3 linked regions of the Homo sapiens genome follow. The protein of the gene in region 1 interacts with the protein of each later gene in a biochemical or structural test. Each region holds a gene or a part of one and is shown on either strand. Other genes may lie near its edges.

Region 1 (8,338 bases):
ACTCAGGAGGCTGAGGCATGAGAATTGCTTGAACCCAAGAGGCAGAGGCTGCAGTGAGCCAATATTTCACCACTGCACTCCAGGCTGGACGACAGAGTGAGACCCTGTCTCTTTCTGTCTGCCTCTCTCTCTCTCTCTCTCTCTCTATATATATATATGTAATATTTTAAAAATTAAAACTAATTTATGTGATCTTACAGTCTGCCTTTTCCCCTTTATTGTGAAATTATATTATGAAGTTCTTTTCTTAATGAACATCAATAAATGCATATATGCATCTTTTTAAAGGATGCATTCTTAATTTAACTGATTAATAAGTTTCTAACTGCTGACTGTTCTAGTATTTCGCTAACATGAATAATGCAGTGATGGGCACCCTTGTGGAGTAGTACCTCCGTATACATTCACTAAGATAGCGTCTTAGAACTGATCCAACCTAAGGCCTTCCATGGATGAGAACTCCTTAATTCTGAGTTGCTGGGATTAACCCCTTCCCTACTAGCATCTGCTTCTAAGGGGCCCTCCATTGCCTCTTCAGCCTGCAGCAGCAACTCCCTCATGAAGGAAATGCAGGCACAACTACTGGAGTTTGAGAAGTTTGGAGGCCGGGTGCGTGGTTCACACCTGTAATCCCAGCACTTTGGGAGGCCGATGCAGGCGGATCCCCTGAGGTCAGGAGTTTGAGACCAGCCTGACCAACATGGCGAAACCCCGTCTCTACTAAAAATACAAAAATTAGCCGGACGTGGTGGTACATGCCTGTAATCCCAGCTACTTGGGAGGCTGAGGCAGGAGAATCGCTTGAACCTGGGAGGCAGAGGCTGCAGTGAGCTGAGATCATGCCAGTGCACTCCAGCCTGGGCAACAGAGCAAGATGCCATCTCAATTAAAAAAAAAAAAAAAAAAAGAGAAGCTTGGAGAAACAAAGAGATGTGGGAGGGCATTAGCACTGAGAAAACAGGCATTGTGCCCCAGGCACTGCAGGACACTTGTACACACCTTGTCTCACTGAATATCCCTTGAAGTTGTCATTGGAAAAGCAGACTCACAGCAGATAGGGAATTTGCCCAAGGCCATGGTCACCTTAAGTCTGGTAATAGTGACCAACTACAAGTTGAATCAAGATGTTGTATGACATTGACGTGCACACACATAAAGCAAGTCACTGTCTTTCGGCTAAAGGGTGAAGGGTTTCTTTTTGGGGCAATGAAAATGTTGATTGTGGTGATGGTTACAAAACTCTGAATATACTGAAGGCCATTTTAGTATATGGACAAATTGAATGGTAGATGAATTATCTCAATGAAGCTGCTTGGAAAAAAAAAGAAAAGGTCGTCATTCTTGCCAAAAAGACCTCTGAGTTTGAATCCTGACTTTGCTCCTGTCAAGCAATGAGACCTTGGACAAGCTGCTTCTGACTAGGTCTCTGTTTTCTTATATATAACAAGGAGATAATAACAACTAGGTCTCAGTATTGTTGGGCGCTTTAAATAAGATCATGTAAGCAAGCACTTGACCCCTAACTGGTAGCCATTATTTCCGCCGCAATGCTAAATGCGACCCAAATGTGAAAACACCAGCATGGTCCCCCGCGTAGGGCTCACACTCAAAACAGGACACTCGAGTTTTGTGCTGTTTGGAGTCCTGAGATCTGTGGTTTCCAGAGCCCATAATCAGAGGCCCTTTTCAGCGCCATGCTCAACCCCACTACATTTCTACAAGGTGCTCTCCACTCAAGGTTGCAGGACTAGGGTGTGGAAAGTTGTCACTTCAGGGGAGCTGACAGTGTCTGGGATTGCTGGAGTGGGCAATCTGACACTATCTGGGATTGCTGGTAGGCCCAGGTGCTGAAGATGGGGCTGGAGACAGAGAGGAAGAAGGTGGGGTCCCTGCTTCTGGTGATATTTTCTGTGTGAAGCACAGAAATGCTTATTTGCTCACTGAATGGCTGGCCTGTGCTCATGCTGGGGTTCCTGTCTGCCTCCCCAAGTCAAGCGCAGCTTCTTCTTTTCCCTTCTTGTCACTACTTCCCCAGCATCCCCCCGGGCTTTCAACTTCAATGGCATTTCGATTCCACTTTCTCTACCTTCTCTCCCTTGCCTAAGCCACCTTTCTCTATGCCTGACCCTTATTATCCTCATTCTTCCTATTTTAGAGGCACCCTTTGGTCTAGGCCAGTGGCGATTGACTTTGGCAGCTCATTAGAATCCCCCAGGGAGCTTTAGAACCTAATGATACCCAGGCCGCATGCAAAAAAAATCTGATTTAATTGGTCCTCACTCCACTTGGATTACAGCAGCAGCTTTCTAACTAGTCTCCCTAACCCCATCCTCAATATCCACTCCTGTCCTCCCAGTACAGGCAGAGATATACAAAGCCACACCTTGTGCATCTTCTACACATATCAGCAAAAATCACCTGCCACCTTGTATCACTCTGACAAGCAGATCCAAAATAAGGGCTGTTCATCCTTAAATATGTTGTTTCCAGCCCTTTTCTGCCATATAACTCCTCCTTCAGGGCAGCCTGGCTTGAAATGGGCTCTGTCGATGAAAGGCCCGCTGCTCTCCAGTCAGCCTCTTCTTCTCGCCCCACTCTTAGCTCGCCGATTCATCAGCAACCTGGAACAGTTGCCTTTTCCCTCGGCCTACCTGTGTCCCCCTCCCGATTAATGCCACCTTAATCCAGGTTCTTCACCCAACCCCACATTCCTGTAACCACCTGAAGACAGAGTTGTAGGCAGGTAGACTTGAGGGTCTATCAGATGTGTGGATCCCATTCCCGCATTGGACCACAGTCTCCACTGGGGCAGGAGACATGCATCTGGTTTCCTGTATAGCCCCCCTGGAGGCAGAGGTCAGCGCTGGGGAATATTAGAAATGCTATTTTCCAACTTGCCAAATAGCACCCACACTGAAATAAAGCAATTAAGGGAATGAACACTTACCTTGAATCTTCAAATCAAATATTTTTTCCAACACATTTTTTCCTTTTGTATCATATATTGATACCTTGTAGATATCCTGATCATCGGTCTTCAGATGCTTAATTTTCAGAGTTCCATTTTTAAATAGCTTATATGTATCTTTTTCCTTGAAAGTCTCTTTCTCTTTTCTGAATTGTGCAATCTTTTTCTTGTCTGAAGTTTTTTCCCATTTTATATCGTCAATATCATCACTCATTTGAAAACTAGGAATGTCCAAGTTGATGTCCTGACCCAAGGCACCCCAGGTTTCCAAGGCATTCGTAATCTCTTTGGAGACTGCACCTATAAAAAGCAAAAGAGTTACTGAGAGTCACTTTCAGGGAAAGCTGGGTTGGGACTTCTTTGACTCTTATGCTTACCTTTGGAAGAAACATTGAAAATCAGAAGGAAGCTGGCTACAAATTTACATGGAAAGCTCATCTTAGGGGTTGGTTTCCTCTTTTGATTCTGAGCTCTTCATGCAAAAGGAACTGAAGTGAGACTGGTGGAGTCCACACCCCGAGAGCTTAACCACGTGCCTCTCTTTACATCTTTTACAGTAACATAAAACATAATACACATACACAGAGAGCAAGAGCGCGCACAAGCCAGCCCTTCTGATGTGCTCCTTTGCCAAAGCAGATGTGTTTATGAGTGTGTGTTTTCTTGCTGCATTTTAATTCTCACACAAAAAAATTGGGAAGGATAGGTTTTCTCATCTCAGTGAAAGAGAAAAGGAACAGAGAGGCTAAGTAGATCACTAAGGATCACTCTTTTGTAAACAAGAAGCCAAATTCAACCACACAGCCTTTTATCCACTTAGGTATACTGTCCCTAACAAGACCACATAGAAATATAGGTAAATGTTCACAAGCCAATAGCAGAATGCAAACATTTATCCCATATGATTATATTGAAAAATGTAGACCCATAAAATGATGAGGAAATTGATTTTTTTGTTTCTCCAAAGATATTTTTCATGTTCTAAAATCGTTTTTGTGGTGAAAAGAAAGAAATTGAATATCAGCTGTAAATGCTTGCAATCCCCAAATCCTATGTTCGGCATACATTTTACAACTCTAGTGAAATTCACAGTTAGATAAATAAAAACTTATTCCAAAACAAAGAAGCATAGAGACTATGAAATATAATTAAACTACCAAAACAAAGGAGTCAAAAGCATTTAAAGTGATTAACATTATAGGTGGTTAAGAAAAAGGAGAGATTAGGAGAAAAAATAAATGAGAGGGAACAGGGAGAGAAAAAAAGAACAGAAATTTGTGACACAAGGAAACAGACAGTGATGCAGAGACGGGTGTGCCCTGAAAAGATGCCTAAAAAGAGAAATAACCATGACAGACTTCCAAAGCACATTTTCAGGGTTATAATTCTTTAGGTCACAGTGAGTAAAAATTGCAAAAGTGGTGCTCGTTTTCTTTTTCAACTTTAAGTACAAATATGGATATTATCTGTCAGAAAGTTGCCAAGGAAATGAAATTAAGTCAAAGCAGTTGTTTGCTGTTACTGGGTAAAAGAAAGCCAAATATTTACCTCATGGTTGTATGAGCGTCATCCACAATAATGAACTACAGTTGGATTAAAGTTTTAAATGCAAAAATACTATAATAATGCTAAAAGGAGGCCGGGGGTGGTGGATCACAGCTATAATCCCAGCACTCTGGGAGGTCGAGGCGGACCTCCTCACCTGAGGTCAGGAGTTCAAGACCAGCCTGGCCAACATGGTGAAACCCATCTCTACTAAAAATACAAAAATTAGCCAGGTGTGGTGATGTGCGCCTGTAATCCCAGCTACTCAGGAGGCTGAGGCAGGCAAATTGCTTGAATCTGGGAAGCGGAGGTTGCAGTGAGCCAGGATTGTGCCACTGCACTCCAGCCTGGGGAGCAGAGTGAGACTCTGTCTCAAAATAAATAACTAAATAAATAAAATAATAACAATAATGCTAAAAGGACAATATAGAAAGATATTCCTATAGTTTGAGTATGGAAGGCCTGGCTACATATAACATATAATCCAAAGTAAGAAAGAAAAGATGAACACAACTGATGATATAAAGAAGTAAGATTTACATGCAGATGAAGAAATAAGGAACAAAATGAAAAGGCGTGACAAAATATTTGCAATATATATAAAATTATTAATATTCAAAATATTCTTACCAATAATTCTTACCAATCAATACAAAGTAGTTTTTAAAATGGGCAAATGATATAAATGATCAGCTTGCAGAAGAAATATTTCGCAGAAGAAATATCAAACCTACAAGAGGAGTCTAATGTGACCAAAAATATATGTATATATCTTAGCTATAAAATACCATTTTTCACCATCAGATTGGTAAAATTAGAAAAGATGATAATTTACATTATTAACATGAGTGTGTGGAGAAATGAACCCTCATACAACATCAGAGGGAATGTAAATCAATACCTTCTGGGGAAAGGAATTTATCATTTCCACCAAACTTTAAAATTTATGTCTTTTTCTCACCTAGTGATTTTAATTTGAGAAATCTATCCCACAGAAATGATTGCACAGATGTTTTAAAATTCTGTTCAAGGACGTTTGTTGTAGCATTTTTGTAATAAAAAATTGCAAACAACTAAAATTATGGTATATCCATATTATGAAATATTGTATAACCATCAAAATAGTATAACATAGGCCTAAAAGTAAGACATGGAAAGATGCTTTTGGTAAATCACATGAAAAGAGCACATTGCAAAACAATATCTATAGGATTAGTCCTTTTTATATATGATACTATGTTTATACTATGCTATGGGTATACCAGTATACCATAGCATACTATGTTGTTATTAAGGTATGTGTTGGAAAAAAGCCTGAAAGGGTTGATGCTGAATTTTTTTACAGTGCTTGTCTTTCAGGTATTAGATTGTGAGAGAACTGAAATGAAATTTTCACTTCTTACCTTTGTAAACCAAAAAGAATTTGAGACAGATCTCAATCAATTTAGAAGTTTATTTCATCAACATTAGGGACAAAAAGGAACACAGAACCACAGGAAAAATCTGTGGTTTGTGCCTTTTTCTCAAGATTATTTCAAAACCTTCAGTTAAGGGGAAAAGCTGGCCAGAGGGGAAGGAGGGAGGGTACAGTCACATTACTGAATCCATATGTTGCAAGAGAAAAAAAGTAGGTAGGGGAATGGTCAATTTGTATTCTTCTCATGCTCAGTAAATTGGCACTTTCTTAAGATAAGGTGAACATAGAGTAGCTACCCGTGGAGACAGCAGCTTTTTATCTGTAACTCTCTGCTTAGGAACTCAAGGAAAGGCAGTTTCTTGTGTGACTCAACTTTCAGCTTAATTTTTCCTTTTGGCATAATGAATTGGGGTCCCAGGATTTTATGTTTCTTTCACATTTTATTTATTTCTGTGAAGTTTAAAATTTTGGAAATAAGCACCTTTTTTGTTAATAAAAAATGTCTTTTTAAGAAAGGATGCTTAGGGCACACGTATTTTTTCAAAAGTATCGCCAACCCAGAGGAGCAGCATGGAGCTTCCTGTTTGTGAGTGGCTGACCCACCAGCTGCCATCCAACTCCAGTGTGTCAAGGCCTGGTGGAGAGAAGGTGGCGCCAGCCATCCTCTGACCCATCTCAGCTTTGGAGGGCGCTTGTCCTCTCTTCCTCACACTTTCCTCATGGAGCATGTGAAGAGCAGCTTTCTGTTCCTCTATTTGAAACATTAATTTTGCTCCTCTAAAACTAATTCAATTCTGAGTGATGAGCATGGCTTCAAGGGCAGAAACAATGAAAAAGAAAGAGGTCAGTAGATTTGACTCTGTAAAATGTGAAAACTTTCTATGTAAAAAGCCATAAAAAAATTAAAGACAACGTACTAAAAGGAGCAAATTACTTGCAAGATACATGACAAAGGCATAACAATTTTTTTTTAATTTTAGAGACAGGGTCTTGCTCTGTTGCTCAAGATGGAGTGCAGTGGTATGACCACAGCACCACAGCATACTGCAGCCTTGACCTCCTGAGCTCAAGTGATCCTCCTGCTTCAGCCTCCTGAGTAGCTGGGACTACAGACATGTGGCACCATGCCTGGCTAATTTTTTTATTTTTTGTAGAGACGGGGGGTCTCACTATGTTGCCCAGGCTCATCTTGAACTCCTGGGCTCAAGTGATCCTCCCACCTTGGCCTCCCAAAGTGTTGGGATGACAGGTGTGGGCCACCGTGCCTGGCCAACATTAAATTTTTAGTATTAAATTTTTCTTGTAAACATAGAAAAGATAGACACCTTAAAACTAAAATGGGTCAAAGTCATAAAAGGAGCAATCCACAAAAGAAAAATTTTATTTCTATTTATTAATAAAGAAATGTCAGTTTTAACATAGATGCATTTTTCATCTTCATTTGAAAAATGAAAACATAGTGTTGATGATGGTGTAAATGGGCATTCTTGTATATGGCCAGGAGAATTGCAAGTAGGTATAGTTTCTGGTGGGCAATTTGTCAGTGTGAATTAGAGTATCAAACATTTGTGGATTTCTAACAAATCCACAAGGATGATTTTATCATAAGGAAATAATGAAGGCTATGTACTAGACTTGGCTATAAATTTATATGCTGCAGTATTTTAAAGACAAAATTGGAAACAATTTAAATGTCTAAGAGAAGGAAATTGGTTAAGTAAATCATGATATAGACAAGCTGTGGAATATGACAAAAACAGGTCCCAATTGTAGGAGAGGTGAAAAGTAATCTTTTTCCTCTTCTTGTCTTAGGTTCTCTGGCTGGAGCCCTGTAAACCAGACTGGGAAAAGACAGGTTAAGAAGGGAAAGGCACATTGAAGTTGATTAAGATGTGTATCCCTCATAAACATGGGAGCACCCAGTGGTGAGTAACCCAAAGGGATGTTAGAACTTGGACTTATAGAGTATATTAGACTAAACAAAGAAAAAGCGATTTGGGGCTTCTAGGTTGGGGAGGCAAGTTACCCAATGACCAGGAAAAGTGTGCCAAACAACAAGATGTGTTTAGTAAGGTTTGTTATGCAGATTGAAGCCAATGCCTTCTCCATTGATAAGAGTTGTTAAGAGTCCTCCTCTTCCTGATACAGGAGAGGGAGATACCTTTTACAAACGGCTATTTTCTTCAGAAATTGTAAATTTTCTTTACAAAAGAAAAATATTGTGCCATGTTTTTAAAGCTTTTACTGCCTCTGCTGGTTCATGATGGCCTTTTGCTCAAAAAAAAACCATATGTTAAAAAGGCATGTTTTAGGGTGGCACTGAAGTAGGAGGTGGAACTTGACTCTGGAGGTGGGGCTTGGACACTGGACCAAATTGAGGACTAGCTAAAACAGAGATAGGTGGAAGC
Region 2 (8,311 bases), about 44 Mb from region 1:
GTGTGCATAGTAGTTAGGCATGCCAGCTGGAGCATCAGACAGACGTAGATTTGAATTTTGATTCTGGTTCTAATTAGCAAAATGCCCTTGGGCAAGCCATTTGACTTGTCTGAACCTCAGTTATCTCTTCCGTAAAATAAGAATAGTGTTTATAAATATCCTCATGTGAATGTTGGAGGATTATTATTTTGTTGTTTTGTTGTTGTTTTTGTTTTTGAAACCTGATCCTTCTGTAAAATGTTGGAGGATTAAATGAGATAATATAGGCAAAGGTCCTGGCAAGTACTTGACTTAGTAGATACACAGAAAATAATAGCTTCTGTCATTACTATCACTTTGTCAAAGTCAAGCAGTAGGTCAAGTGCCCACCAGATTAGATACTGAGAAGAGTGTGTATTTTAATTCACATCATGAGGATTGTTGACCTGTACTTCATCTTCTAGGGTCTTTGCAGCCCCACCTCTGGGTATGCCCAAACTTCAGGGATTTCTGCAACCAGGGCTTTGGTGCAAGAACAGCTGATTCACTTAGGGCAGGGAGAGGGCTTTTGAGCCTTTATTGGTCACTTCTCTCAGACTTGTTTTTGAATCTATGCAGAAGCCTAACTAGCTAGTCCTGAACCTCAGAATGGGCACCCATAGTACTTCAGTGCCCGCTGTTACCATGCAAAAGGAGGAAGATTCCTTGGCTTAAGTTTATATTTCATCCTTTGTTTTAACATCAGCCTATATCCCATGGCTATTAATTCACATCTAAGCAGACTGTTGAGAATTATAGAGCTGTTTACTTGTCAATCTAAAAGAAAGAGGCTGAAACACAAAATATGATTTGAAGACTTTACTTGAGCCAAAGGGAGGACAGCTGCCTGGAAGACTCAGACCCAAGTAAAATTGGTTTTGAGCTCTGCTCAGCCTTTGTTACAAGCAGGTTTTTAAAGGCAAAAAAAGTGATACAAAGTTTTTTTTTTGGAATTCTCATTGGTTTGCAGAAATAACATTAATTAGTGATTGGTTACATATTGTTAAGCTGTAAGGTGTGGGTTATATGTCCAGTGCAGCATTATTAGATTAATTTATGGTTACTTGCAGCAATAGCAAGTAGTTTTAAGAGGTGAATACATAGCCCAAAGGTGGAGTAGGGGGAAGTAAAATGTGATTTCTGTCTCATTTAAATGTCTCTCTGATAATTTGAAGGACTCACATTCTTCAGATAAAAGTTCTTTCCTTTCTTCAACTTTTCACAACAACATTCAAAGGAGGTATTTTAACATTTATTTTTATTTTTACTTTTAGTAGAGATGGGGTTTTGCCATGTTGCCCAGGCTGCTCTCAAACTCCTGAGCTCAGGCAATCTGCCCTCCTCGGCCTCCCAAAGTGATAGCGACAGGAGACAGACAAATTCCTGGACAGATAGAAAAGGGTCCCTGGTGAAACTAGACTTTCAAGACAAAGACAGTTTAAAGCCTGAAAACTGGGCTGCCAGTTCTGGGTAGAGTCCACAACCAGAGTGAGAACTTCCTTGATACCTTTTAGCTAATCGAATGGTGCTTTTTCCAGGCCTGCCTATGGACAAATCTGAGCCGATGAAAACCCCAGACTCAGCCTCACAGAGGGCTACCTGTTTTGGGGCCCCTCTCACACAGTGGTCTACCCACTGTCTGGTCCCCTCTTTGCTGAGAGCTTTCCTTCTGTCACTCAATAAAATTATTCTCTGACCTACTCACTCTCCTTTGTCTGCATGCTTTATTCCTCTTGGTTGCAGGACAAGAACCCAGGACCTGCTGAGCTGCAGGTGGCAGGAACAAGCTGTAACATACCCGTATTTGCTGAGCTGTGGGCACTGGGACCAAGTGAGAGCTGTGACACACCCCCATTCACTGAACTGCAGGCAGCAAGACTAAATAAGAGCTGTGACATGCCCCCATTTGCTGAGCTGCAGGCAGTGGGACTGAACAAGAGCTGTGAGGTGCCCTCATTTGCTGAGCTGCAGGTGGCAGGAACAAGCTGTAACATACCCGTATTTGCTGAGCTGTGGGCACTGGGACCAAGTGAGAGCTGTGACACACCCCCATTCACTGAACTGCAGGCAGCAAGACTAAATAAGAGCTGTGACATGCCCCCATTTGCTGAGCTGCAGGCAGTGGGACTGAACAAGAGCTGTGAGGTGCCCTCATTTGCTGAGCTGCAGGTGGCAGGAACGAGAGAGAGAGCTGTAACATTTCTTGGGGTCTCAGGCCTTGGGATTCCCCAAGCAAAGCTGTAACACCCCTTAGGGCTCCGCAGTTGCTGGCATCTCCGAGTTTCTTAGTGCCACTGTGTTCCCTTCATTTAGACACTGGTGCCCAAGGTGGAAGCAGGTCACAGCACTCCCCGTCCTGCCACTGACTGAGTGTGGATCCTATGGCTCAGGAGTTCAAGACTGGCCTGGGCAACATGGTGAGACCTCATCTCTACAAAAAATTTTAAAAAAATAGCCATGCATAGTGGTCACTGTACTCCAGACTGGGTGACAGAGTGGGAGCCTGTGCCCCCCTCCCCCCAAAAAAGAGAATGTAACATTAATTTACAGGGTCTCTTTTAAAAATCTAATACAATGTTATCTTTTCTTGCTGAAGGAGCAGGGTCGTATCCTAAGGTTAAATCAATTTATAGGAAAAATATAACACACAGTTCCAAAGTGTAACAATTTGACCAAGAGGAATTTGATTCTGGTGCTGTTTCAAATTTTATTTGCAGGGTTCTTTCTTTTCACTTTTATGTTTTTTTCCCTTTTATTTTTAGTTGACATATAATAATTATACATATTTATGGGATACAGAGTAATATTTTGATACATGTATTCAATGTGTGATGATCAAATCAAAGCAATTAGGATACCTATCACCTCAAACATTGATCATTTCTTTGTGTTGGGAACATTCCAAATCCTCTCTTCTAGCTTTTTGAACATATACATTAAATTATTCTTAACTGTATTCACTCCATAGTGCTACAGGATGCTGGAACTTATTCCTCTTCTCTAGCTGTAACTTTGTATCTATTAACCAACTTCTTCCCATCCTCCACTTCCCTCTACCCTTCCCAGCCTCTGATAACCACAATTTTACTCTCTACTTCTATGAGCTCATTTTTTAAGCTTCCATATATGATTGGGAACGTGGTTTTTTATCTTTCTGTGCATGACTTATTTCACTTAACATAATGTCCTTCAGGTTTGAGGACTGAGAAGAGCAGACATTTTATTGTTCATCTCCATGTTGAGAATCAGAAATGTCCCCAATTAAAAAGTGATTACAAATATGTTATATCAGGAACTGTGGCTTGCCTGTGGGTCCTGGGTGGGCAAATAACTAATTTACATTCAATAGGAATGAGCTTGAAATTTCCTAGACATGATATGATTTGGCTGTGTTCCCTTCCAAATCTCATCTTGAATTGTAGTTCCCATAATCCCCACATATCATGGGAGCAACCCAGTAGGAAGTAAGTTAATCATACGAGCAGTTACCATCATGCTGTTCTCGTGATAGTGAGTTCTCACTAGATCTGATGGTTTCATAAGGAAGGGGCTTTCCCCATTGCTGCTCAGTGCTTCTCTTTCCTGCCACCGTGTGAAGAAGGACGTATTGGCTTCCCCTTGCACCATGATTGTAGGTTTCCTGAGGCTTCCCAAGCCATGCTGAACTAGAAGTCAATTTAACCACTTTCCTGGCCAGGCACAGGCCCATGCCTATAATCCCAGCACTTTGGGAGGCTGAGGCAGGTGGATCACTTGAGGTCAGGAGTTCAAGACCAGCCGGGCCAACATGGTGAAACCCTACTAAAAATACAAAAATTAGCTGGGCATGGTGGTGCTTGCCTGTAATCCCAGCTATGTAGGAGGCTGAGGCAGGAGAGTTGCTTGAACCTGTCAGGTGGAGGTTGCAGTGAGCTGAGATTGCACTGCTGCACTCCAGTCTGGGCTACAGAGTGAGACTGCATCTCAAAAAAAAAAAAAACCAAAACAAACAAAACAAAACAAAACCCCTCTCTTTCCTTTATAAATTACCCAGTCTGGGGTATGTCTTTATTAGCAGTGTGAGAACAGACTAATACAGACTACAAGGGTGGGAAATCCATTCTTTTGGGCCAAGTAATCTTACTTTTTTTCTGATGTTCAGTGGATAGGCTGATGTCAAACTTCAAATAGTGAATTATCATAAAGGAAGAAGAGCAGAGGGTGGTGCTGGGGGTAAGATATGCAGCACAAAGGCTACGTGGGTCTGATTTCCCAGACTTCAGGCTCTGAATGACACCTACCCAGGCTTGACTGGGAAGCTCCTATGTCTTAGCCCCTGAATTAATCAGAGGGATTCCTGCCTGGGAACGAAAAGCAGACATTCTCTATCAGGGTCCCTTATTCTTTTCTGAGTACTGGCCCCCCTGAGAGTACAGTAGAAGCTATGAATCTTCCCCCTACAAAAAAGCACTCATGTACCTTCAAACAAAATTGTTCTCAGTTTCCGTGATGCTCTTAGATAAAAAAATTTACAAGACCTCCGGTTTCTGGTTTCTGGGGCCCCACACAAGTGTGCTGGGTGGAGAGAAAATCTCAGTGGTTTTTTTTTTTTTCTCTCTAACCCTGTTTGGTAAGTTCCGTTTTTAGCCCCGGCCTTTTTCTAGCCAGGCTCTCAACTGTCTCCTGCGTTGCTGGGAAGTTCTGGAAGGAAGCATGTGCTCCAGAGGTTGGGATTCGTGTCTGGCTCTGGAATTGCTACTGCTGCCTCTGTCACTCCTGGTGACCAGCATTCAAGGTACTTTCCACCAACTGTGTATCTGTGATTGTGCACTGAAGGCATGGTCAGTTGGGAAAGGGGAGACGGGATGTAGTTCAACCCTAGAAGCCAGATCTGGTGTCTGGAAAGCAGGTATTTCCATTCCAATAGCATGGCCATGGCATGGTTGGGGAGCCTTTCTTAGCACTGATGAATGGAGCTTCATCTCCTTTCCCACGGGGATGTGATCAAAACAGGAACCTGGGGAGCAAGAGAAGTAGGCTCCTCATATTTTGTCCCGTGGTTGGTGGTCCATGAAGTTGTGGAAAAGTGTTTGTTTTTTCATTTTGAATAAGAAGAAGCTCTACACTGACAGCTGCTGCATTTTATGCTCAGACACACTGTACTCCCTTAGGCATTCTTTGAGACCTCTGTATATGTGAGGTGTTGCATCCTGAGCCAAGGTAAATGATATTGTCATTGACCCAAAGAAAAGATAGATCAAAATTATAGGAAGAAAAGCTTGGAAAGGATTGCTGTCTGGGGTCTCTGAATGAGGGTCTGAGAAGAGGCTGGAAGTGCTTCAGCATCAAAGGAACCTTAACACATCTGATTGCTAAGAGTTAAGGTCCATTCCTCTGCCACAGCCTGTTCGGTCCCCGGTGTGTGACCAAGGGCTGAGCTAACTTTCCTTCTCCTGTTAGAGCTGCCTCACCCTCTTTCTTCATCCAGTACCTCTCTTCTTATGCCAGCTGAGAAACAGCAGTGAAACCTTTGACTTTCTTGCTATTCCCCCAAGTAAATACTCAAGTCTTTTTAATTTAAAGGGCTTTAATGCTCACCACTCTGAGTAAAACAGTAAAAATCAACAAACATGTGGTAGTCACACTGTGGCATAAAATGATGATAGTTTGTAACTTTTGGGGAGATGAGGTAGAATGTGTGGAGGATCGGTCTCTCACATATTCTACCTCTCAGGTAGAGTCCTTTGGTTCATGACTGTGTGAGTCTACGGCTATATAGGTTCTGTGGGCCTGACTCAATGCATAGGACATTGGTATGACCTTGGGATTGGGGGCTGATGTGAAGTATTCATCTAACTATTGGGAAAAGCAGGGTTGCCAATGAGAATTGGAATATTTTAGGACTTTCTCTAGGCATACTGAAAACATCCTGACAGTTGACCTTTCTCTGACTTCTTTTCTAGGCTTCATCTTGGTCATTTATTCTTCTTTGAAACAATCAGACCACACCTGATTATGTTATCCTTTGAATGGATAATATTGGTTTTGATGAGGTTAGTAAACCTGGGTTATAACACCCGGGCTATAACCTGGGTTAGTAAAATACAAATTAAGCACTTACTGTGTGTCAGACATTGTGCTAGGCCTTTTGCATACTTTTTCATTTAACTTTCATTAGAAAATAGTGAGGTGGCTATTATTATCTACATTTTTCAGATGAGAATACTGTCTTGCAGAGAGATTAAGAAATTCTCCTAAGGGCACACAGGTCTAACTTCCAAACCATTCTATTATGATTATACCTTTCCTAGACTAAGGCGAGGGAATCTTGGTGAAGGTCAATGTGTCTAAATCTCTTAATTTTACTGTTTGCCTTAAAAGAGGCGTTTTCTCTTACCTCTGGGCTTATGTACATGCCTTCTTTCCACCTAGATTTCTCTCCCTCCTGCCCTCTCCCTGCCTCTCTTTTAGGCTTCTGTTTTTATGTGACTTCTTCTTGGACTGTCTGCCTGTGACTGTGTTCTGAAGGCATGGTTAGATGGGAACCTCAGGCTCCAGATTATGGTTTGTGAATTGCTTGGTGGATCATCTGTTTCCTTGAACTTTTTGAGGACAGAAACCATGTGCAGTGTTGTGCTGCTGAACTTAGCACAGGCCTGGAGTGTGGCATGTGCTCAATAAATAATTGTTACACAAATGAATGAACAACTTCAAAAAACTTCCTTTTGGACTACACATCCATATCTTCCTGAGAAGTGCAAGTAGTTCTCTCCTCTGCCGTAAGGGATGCTTCTGTGGAAAACTTTGAGAAGCACTCTTAGCTCTCTTCTTCCTTCTCTCCTCAGACTTGGGTTTCTCAGTTCTTTGGTTTCAAGGCAATGATTTAGGGCATGCTCCACAACTACCCAATTCCCCATCTGTCCACAACACTTAGCAGGATGAAGTAGACAGAGTATTGTACTAGAAATGAGATGACCTAGTTCTATCTGGGTTCCATGCTGTGGAATTTTCAACAAGTCATTAAAGCTTCCTGAGCCTCAGCTTCCTCAGCTCCATAATGGGTATAATAATCTGTTCCTCATTTCTTCAAGGGGTTGCTATTAAGATCAAATAAAATAAAAAATGTGCAATTGCTTTGCAATTGTGACACATGCGGAATCCGATACAGATGAAAACCTGGGAAGAGCATCAGTAAATTCTTAAGCCCCAAGCAGTCTCCTGAGCCCAAGATCAGAACTTCTGTCTCTTAAACATCTTCTCTAGACTCTCCAGACACGTGTCTAAAACTTAAGTCATCATCTCTGTTTCCGCTATGTATTGCTATTTAACAAGCTGCCACAATACCGTGGCTTAAAATAATAACAATGATTTACTTTGCCCACAGATTTGGGGGAAGACTGTTCATCCTGTCTCACTTTCATGTGCTTTTCATGTGCTTGCAATCAGATCATGGTGTGGCCTAGAGTCATGCAAGGCTCTTCACTCACAGGGCTACTGCCTGAACAGAGGGAGGCTCAAAGTGCTGGGTGGCTAGTGCCACTCAGCAGAAGCCTCCCAGAGTTGGTGTCCCAAGAGAAATAGGCAAATGCTGCATGGTCTTTTCTAAGCTAGCTTTGCAGGTCACACTTCCGGTGTATTCCATTCATTGAAGCCATCACCGAGCCTACTCAATTTCAAGGTGAAGGGGCACAAAGTCCATCATTTGATGAGAGGACCATCAAAAAATTTACAGACTTAAAAAAAAATACTACAATCCTTCTTCCCCCAAACCTACTGCTCCTCCACTGTTCCCCACCTCTATAAATGACATCTCCACTTGTCTAGTTGCTCAGGCCAGAATTCTAGGAGTCATCCTTGCTTCTTTTCTCTCCCTTGCTTCTCATGCCCAATGAGTAAGTCCTGTTAATTCTACTTTCAAAAATATCTCTCAAATATGTCCAATTCCATCCAGCCCCATGCTACCTATCTCAGATCAAGCCACCATTTTCTCTTATCACCAATTTCCACAATGATCCACTATCCTAACTGCTCTATTTACTGCATTCTCTCTAGCTAACCTGTTCTCTACCCTGCTGTCGGTATACATTTTCTAAAATGGTTCTCTGTTTGCATCACTCTTCTGCTTAAAATCTTTAGTGGCCACTGTGGGAAATGAGAAAGCAGAAGCTGTGAGCCTAAAGTTCACATTTCATAATGAGCTCACTTGCTACCCTCCTTAGTCTATGTCCTAGCCAGTGAGCTACTTCCTACTCCGCAAATGAATTTCATTTTTGTGTTTCTGGGCGTTTGATTCTTTTTCCCTCTTGTTGGAATA
Region 3 (5,765 bases), on another chromosome or scaffold:
CCTACCAGAACTATTACGATCGGGAGGTCACCCCGCTGACCAGCAGCCCTGGCATACAGCCGTCCTGCGGCATGATAAAGAGGTGAGGCCCCGACAGACGGAGGGAGGGCCTAAGGCTGGGCCAGGAAGTGGGTCGAGCCCCTCCTCTGCACCTGGCCCTTCCTCGTTCACTGAGCACCTACTATGTGTCTGTATCTGGTGCCCAGTTTAGGTGCTGGGCACTCTGTGGAGACAAGATAGGCTCAGTTCAGCCTATGGAACCCTCAGCCCAAGGGACCCAGACACTAGAATAATCACACCCCAATTATTCACTAGGGGAGGTGCTCCGAGCTCTGGGGAGGCCCCTATGCTGGCTTCCTTGTCCCTGGGGCCTCATGTGAGCCTGGTGCCCTGTCAGGCTGCAGTGGCAACGCTGTCTGGCTGGAGCAGGACTGGGGCATCTGGAGAATTCTCCAGGCTTTTCCAGGGCTCCTTCCCCGGCCTGGCTGCAGTCAAGTGCCAAGGTCCTAGTGCTGGGCCTCAATGTGTGACCTGGGCAAGTCATTCACACTCTCTAAGGCCAGGGCCCTGAGTGTTGGGGTCAGATTCAGAATCTAAGGACTCTCCTGGTTCAGGCCTTGAGTGACGAAGGTGACAGCCCATTGGGAGCACTATAGCCAGCTTAGGGAGCCCTCGTAGCCAGGCCTTTGAGGGAGGCCATGTGCCCTGTGAGCATCCACAAGGGTCTGTGGGTTTCACATGGTGCCTGTGCCCCCACCGCCATGCCACCACTCTTCAGCCACCCTTCAACCAAGAAGGCCCTGCCTCTGGGAGGTAGTGGACTGTGGGGAGAGGCTGATGCAGTTCCCGGCCCTTCCCAAGGACCAGCTCATTCCAGGGCCTCAGGAGCCCCTGGAACTTCCTACTCCTGGGAGGCAGAGGCTCGTGGGAACCACCCGTGCTTAGAGAGGGCACACACACACCCTCTTTGAGAATCTTGTGCAAGCAGTGACCCCAGGAGGCAGCACACCCGCAGCCTCACATGCTACAAAAGCTTGTGAGACAGGCTTCCCTGTGCCTGGTGAGGACCTGGATCCCAGCAAAGGTGGTCATTTAAGCAACTGGACAAAAGAGCTCACCTGAAGCAGTATCAGGAAGGGGCAGAAAGGAGTGGCCCCAGAGAGGATTAGAGAGAGAGAGAGAGATGTCCTGCAGGGCCGAGGGAGGCCTGGCTGCTGGAGGGGGCTGGTCAGGCCTCTGGATGGGGCATCTAGAAGCCAGGCAGGACTGGGAAGAGGCGGGGGTCAGTGACTGGGAGTCAGAAGTGTAGACAGTCTGGGGAAAAGAGGTGTGGGGGCACGCAGCACAATGGCTCAGCAAGCCCTGCACCCCTTTCCCCCTGCCCTGGCCGCTTCCTCCACCTGTCCCCAGCCCCTGCTGGCTTGCACCCTGTCCTTTGCTGCCTGGGGAGCTGGCACGTGTGTCTGCCCGCCTGTGTTGGTGTCAGGCCCTCCCATGTGCTGGGTCCACGCATGTCCACCCTGCGCATGTGTGTGCACTCCTGGGGCCTTGGCCCTCGGCGCCTCATGTGGGAAAGGCCCCCCACATGCCACCTTGAATTGCAGGGCTGCCCCCCACAGGCCCCTGAGTCATGGCTCAGCCCCTCACCTGCATTCAAGATCCCTCAGGGTCTGGTCCAGTCTCTATTTCAGTCCTGTCCCCCACACACCCAAATTGGTCCACTCCACTCCACAAACCCCACCTGTGCCATGCCTCCTCCCCTGCACCTGAGCCCTCCCTCTCCTGGTCACCTGCAGTGCCTCGCTCCCCCTTCTCTCCTAGTAAAGCTTCACTCATCTTTGAAGACTCAGCCCCACCCCACTAAGAAGCCCTCTTGCCTTGGAGGCAGTGTCAGCCTCTACTTGTTGAGCCCTCACTACTGCCCACTTCAGGGGGTGCCCCCAGCATCTGCCGCATCTGCCTCTTCTGTTTTATTTTCCTTTATTCAGTAAACCTTCATGACCCCAGCTCAGTCCAGGCCTAAGCCTGGTGCAGGGGCAGGGGTAAAGTAGCCCAGCGCTGTCCCGGAACTCCTGTGAACAGGGTGGCTGAGCTGGCCTGATCACCGTGGGCCCACAGGGAGGAGGGCTGGCTCGGCCCAGGCAGTGGAGGCCTCAGCAGGGCACGTGAGCCAGGCTTTGTGTGGCAGTGCACCCCCCACCCCTACCCATGGGGGAAGCTGCTAGGGCAAGCTAGAGCAGGGGCCTGGAGGGTGAGGACTGGGCATCTTCCCACGAGGCCTCAGTGCGGAGGTCCTAGAACCCCCAAAGGGCCATGGGAGTCTTCCAATGAAGCTACAGCTTCGGGGGTTCTAGGATCCTCCCAAGGGCCCTGCAGGGAGCAGGTGCTGAGATGGCCTGCAGAGGGCGCCAGTGGAGGGCGTAGCTGGGGAAGGAGGAGCCACCAGGACTACTTTCTGGGGAGCCCTCCTGCCTGAGGGGCACCTCATAAATGACATCCATGCCTGGAGGCTAGGGGCAGTCCCAGCCCTGGCAGAGCGCGTGCAGCTCTGAGACCTCTCCCTGTCTAAACCCTCCCTCCTGGTGGGTCCCTGAGTGTGGGGCGGGGACACTCACCCTCTTTCCTCCCTGTTCCCAGGTTCTCTGGACTGCTGCACGGAAGTCCCAAGACCACTTCGTTGGCAGCTTCTGCTGGTAAAGGGGGTCAGGAGGGGACCCCCAAACACACTGATCCTGGGGGGGAGGAGAGGTCTCCCACATGGCACAGATGGGGCCACTGAGGCCCTCAAGAGGAAGTGTGTGTCCCCCAACAGCAAGTGTGGACAGCAGAAGGAAGAGGCAGGGCCCAGCATGGAGAAACCCCATTCTAGTAGGACTTCCAGGGGCCAGTGTCCCCAGAAGGGGAGGGGTCTATGTCTCACCCTGCTCTTAGCGTCCACAGAGACCCTGACCCCCACCCCCGAGCGGAATGAGGGTGTCTACACAGCCATCGCAGTGCAGGAGATACAGGGAAACCCGGCCTCACCAGCCCAGGAGTACCGGGCGCTCTACGATTATACAGCGCAGGTGAGGCCTCTATACCCCAAACCCACCTGTGCCACCTCCCCTGCACCTGAGAGCTCCCTCTCCCATCCAGTGCCTTGCGTCCTCATCTCTCCTCATGGTTTCACTCATCTTCGAGCATCCTCTCCTCCTCAGGAGGGCACGTGTGCCCGAGTGTGTCCACACTAGCAAGGGTACCTGGGAGTGTGCTTGGATGTGAGCTCTGAGAACAGCACCCAGGGCTTGCGGGGCCTCAGTGTGCATGTACTGACTGGAAGCTGGTGTGCAGCAGGCCTGTGTCTGCCCGGGCCTGTACACAGCACACACGTGGAGCACATGTACCTATGCCGTCCACACAGGCTGGGCGCTGAGTGGTGCACACGTGCGGGGAGCTGGCAGAGCCTGGAGCTGCCTGCAGGTCATAGCTTGAGGGCCAGGCTCTGTGCCTTTGGGTCAGGGCCCTGTCCTTCGTGGCCATGGGTGTGGAAAACTGTGGCCAGAATGAGTCTTGCTATCGTGCCAGGATTGATTTTCTGATGTCCATAGGGTGAGGATGAACCAAGGCAGCCACAGGGCAGCTATGAGAGTCCTTTCTGCTCCCTGCTTGAGGGGAAGAATGCATAGCCAGACCTCACATCCACCTGGACTGAGGCCAAGCACCCCCACATAGCCAGGCAGGCTGGGTGTGGACTCCACTGATGAGGCCAGGGCTCGGGGAGGCAGGGAAGCCAGGCCAGGAGAGTGATGGGGTACTTGGATGGCAGTGGCTAGCTGGGGCTGGGGACCGCAAAGGGGAGGCTTGTGGTAAGCTTAGGCATGAGTGTGCCCTGGGCTTGGGGTATGATGAGCACCCGTGACCCCTGACATGCTCCAGTCACTGCGTCTCCAGAATGGGAGAGGGGAGGTGAGGCTGGGAAGAAACCCAGGTTGGGGGAGAACTATGATGACAAACTGAGGGGGATGGGAGGCCCGGTCCGTTGGGTTACCCCCATCCTGTGTCCCCAAGGGGCTGCCCCTGCCCACCCTGGGAGACATGCCGCATTTACTGCTGGGTGGGGGAACGCCAGGCCCCTCCCTGCAGGCCCTTCCCTGCAGGCCCTTCCAACGTCATGCGCTTTCAATCTCTTGGCCAGAACCCAGATGAGCTGGACCTGTCCGCGGGAGACATCCTGGAGGTGATCCTGGAAGGGGAGGATGGCTGGTGGACTGTGGAGAGGAACGGGCAGCGTGGCTTCGTCCCTGGTTCCTACCTGGAGAAGCTTTGAGGAAGGGCCAGGAGCCCCTTCGGACCTGCCCTGCCAGTGGAGCCAGCAGTGCCCCCAGCACTGTCCCCACCTTGCTAGGGCCCAGAACCAAGCGTCCCCCAGCCCCGAGAGGGAGCCTGTCGTCTCCCAGGGAATAAAGGAGTGCGTTCTGTTCTCCTTGGTGTGCTGGGGTCCCGTTCTCTTTTTCTCCTGCTCCAGTGTCCGAGTGCTCAGTTCAGAGGAGGCAAAGGAACAAGGGAAGGAGCCTGGATGTGGAGCTCCCCAACTCAGCCGAGGCTTCAGCTATAGTTGGAGAAGAGGCCTGGCCCCAGTTGCTAGGAGCTCCCAGACTGCCAAGGAGACACATTCACACCTGGACAGAGGACACAGGGGTGCAGGAGGATGTGGCAGGGGCAAGAAGGGGCTCAGCAGGGCTGCAATGGGGAGAGCAGGCTTCTTGGGGGCGGAGGGTTGAGCAGGTCCATGGCTGGGCAGCAGTGGCCAGGCCAGGGCAAGTGCGTGGGCAAAGGTGAGGTTGGGGGTACACCCAGGAATATTCGGAGGACTCAGTTTGGAAACAGGAAGCTGGTGATGGATCTGTTGGAGAGGCCATGGTGGGAGCCCAGGAAGACAGGCTTGTGGCTTGTGGGTGCAAGTGGGGCCTGGGGAAGCCACTGCTGCCCATGACACTCCCCTCAACATGGCAACCCCGGCCGAGCAGGGGTCCACAGCCCAGGCACGTTGGCCCCGGGCACAGAGGGAGCTGTTCTTGAAGGCCTTCAGCCCCTTCTCTTTTTAGTCCCAGGAACATAACTTTCACTGCTGGCCAAGCCCTGCTCCAACCATGATAGGCTTCATCCATGCCAAAGGCATTGGGAGTGGGTGTGGAGGAGAGGGCCCCTGGCCATTGACCACTCCTCAGTCCTGGGAGTGGCCAAGCCGGCCCACCTCACACCCTCCTGGGATCCCCACCCGGCTTCGGAGCCAGGCAGGCCCAGGACTGTAAGGGGCGGGATGGGGGACACAGTGGTCCTCCTCTGCTGGGACCACACTGATGAGCTGCTGCAGGGCACTGCTGTTCCCCATGGGGAGGGGGGAGAGAGAAAGGAGGGAGGGGGGAGAGAGAGAAAGGAGGGAGGGGGGGAGAGAGAGAGAGAGAAAGGAGGGGGAGAAAGGAGGGAGGGGGAGAGAGAGAGAAAGGAGGGAGGGGGAGAGAGAGAGAAAGGAGGGAGGGGGAGAGAGACAGAATGCCCATCTTTATACCCTGATCTTTACTTGAGCAAAAAATTGGGTTCAGTTAAGCAAGCATGAGACATGGACATTCTAATGACTCATGTGTGGCCCACACTGTACCTGATGATGGGGGTGTGGTGCTAAAAGGGGCCTCAAAGAGCTCACTCAGCCCAGGAGGACAGACAGCCACCCTCTAGGCCCTGAGATGTGAGGCAGTAAGTGGGGGGAGTGGTTCCAGGGGCTGGTG

The links.
Region 2: the proteins of CD2 (region 1) and CD48 form a complex in vitro, tested with the Homo sapiens proteins (one study listed by BioGRID).
Region 3: the proteins of CD2 (region 1) and PSTPIP1 form a complex in vitro, tested with the Homo sapiens proteins (one study listed by BioGRID and IntAct).

Annotation. Positions count from the first base shown.
Region 1 is NC_000001.11:116,749,561-116,757,898, reverse strand, and holds the start of CD2 (T-cell surface antigen CD2 isoform 2 precursor), read right to left. Parts: upstream 3,470-8,338; 5' UTR 3,407-3,469; coding exon 3,346-3,406; intron 3,269-3,345; coding exon 2,948-3,268; intron 1-2,947. UniProt on the Homo sapiens protein: CD2 interacts with lymphocyte function-associated antigen CD58 (LFA-3) and CD48/BCM1 to mediate adhesion between T-cells and other cell types. CD2 is implicated in the triggering of T-cells, the cytoplasmic domain is implicated in the signaling function.
Region 2 is NC_000001.11:160,708,163-160,716,473, reverse strand, and holds the start of CD48 (CD48 antigen isoform 1 precursor), read left to right. Parts: upstream 1-4,651; 5' UTR 4,652-4,710; coding exon 4,711-4,792; intron 4,793-5,985; exon of another isoform or gene 5,986-6,050; intron 6,051-8,311. UniProt on the Homo sapiens protein: Glycosylphosphatidylinositol (GPI)-anchored cell surface glycoprotein that interacts via its N-terminal immunoglobulin domain with cell surface receptors including CD244/2B4 or CD2 to regulate immune cell function and activation.
Region 3 is NC_000015.10:77,032,871-77,038,635, forward strand, and holds the end of PSTPIP1 (proline-serine-threonine phosphatase-interacting protein 1), read left to right. Parts: coding exon 1-82; intron 83-2,637; coding exon 2,638-2,693; intron 2,694-2,931; coding exon 2,932-3,065; intron 3,066-4,174; coding exon 4,175-4,306; 3' UTR 4,307-4,605; downstream 4,606-5,765. UniProt on the Homo sapiens protein: Involved in regulation of the actin cytoskeleton. May regulate WAS actin-bundling activity. Bridges the interaction between ABL1 and PTPN18 leading to ABL1 dephosphorylation.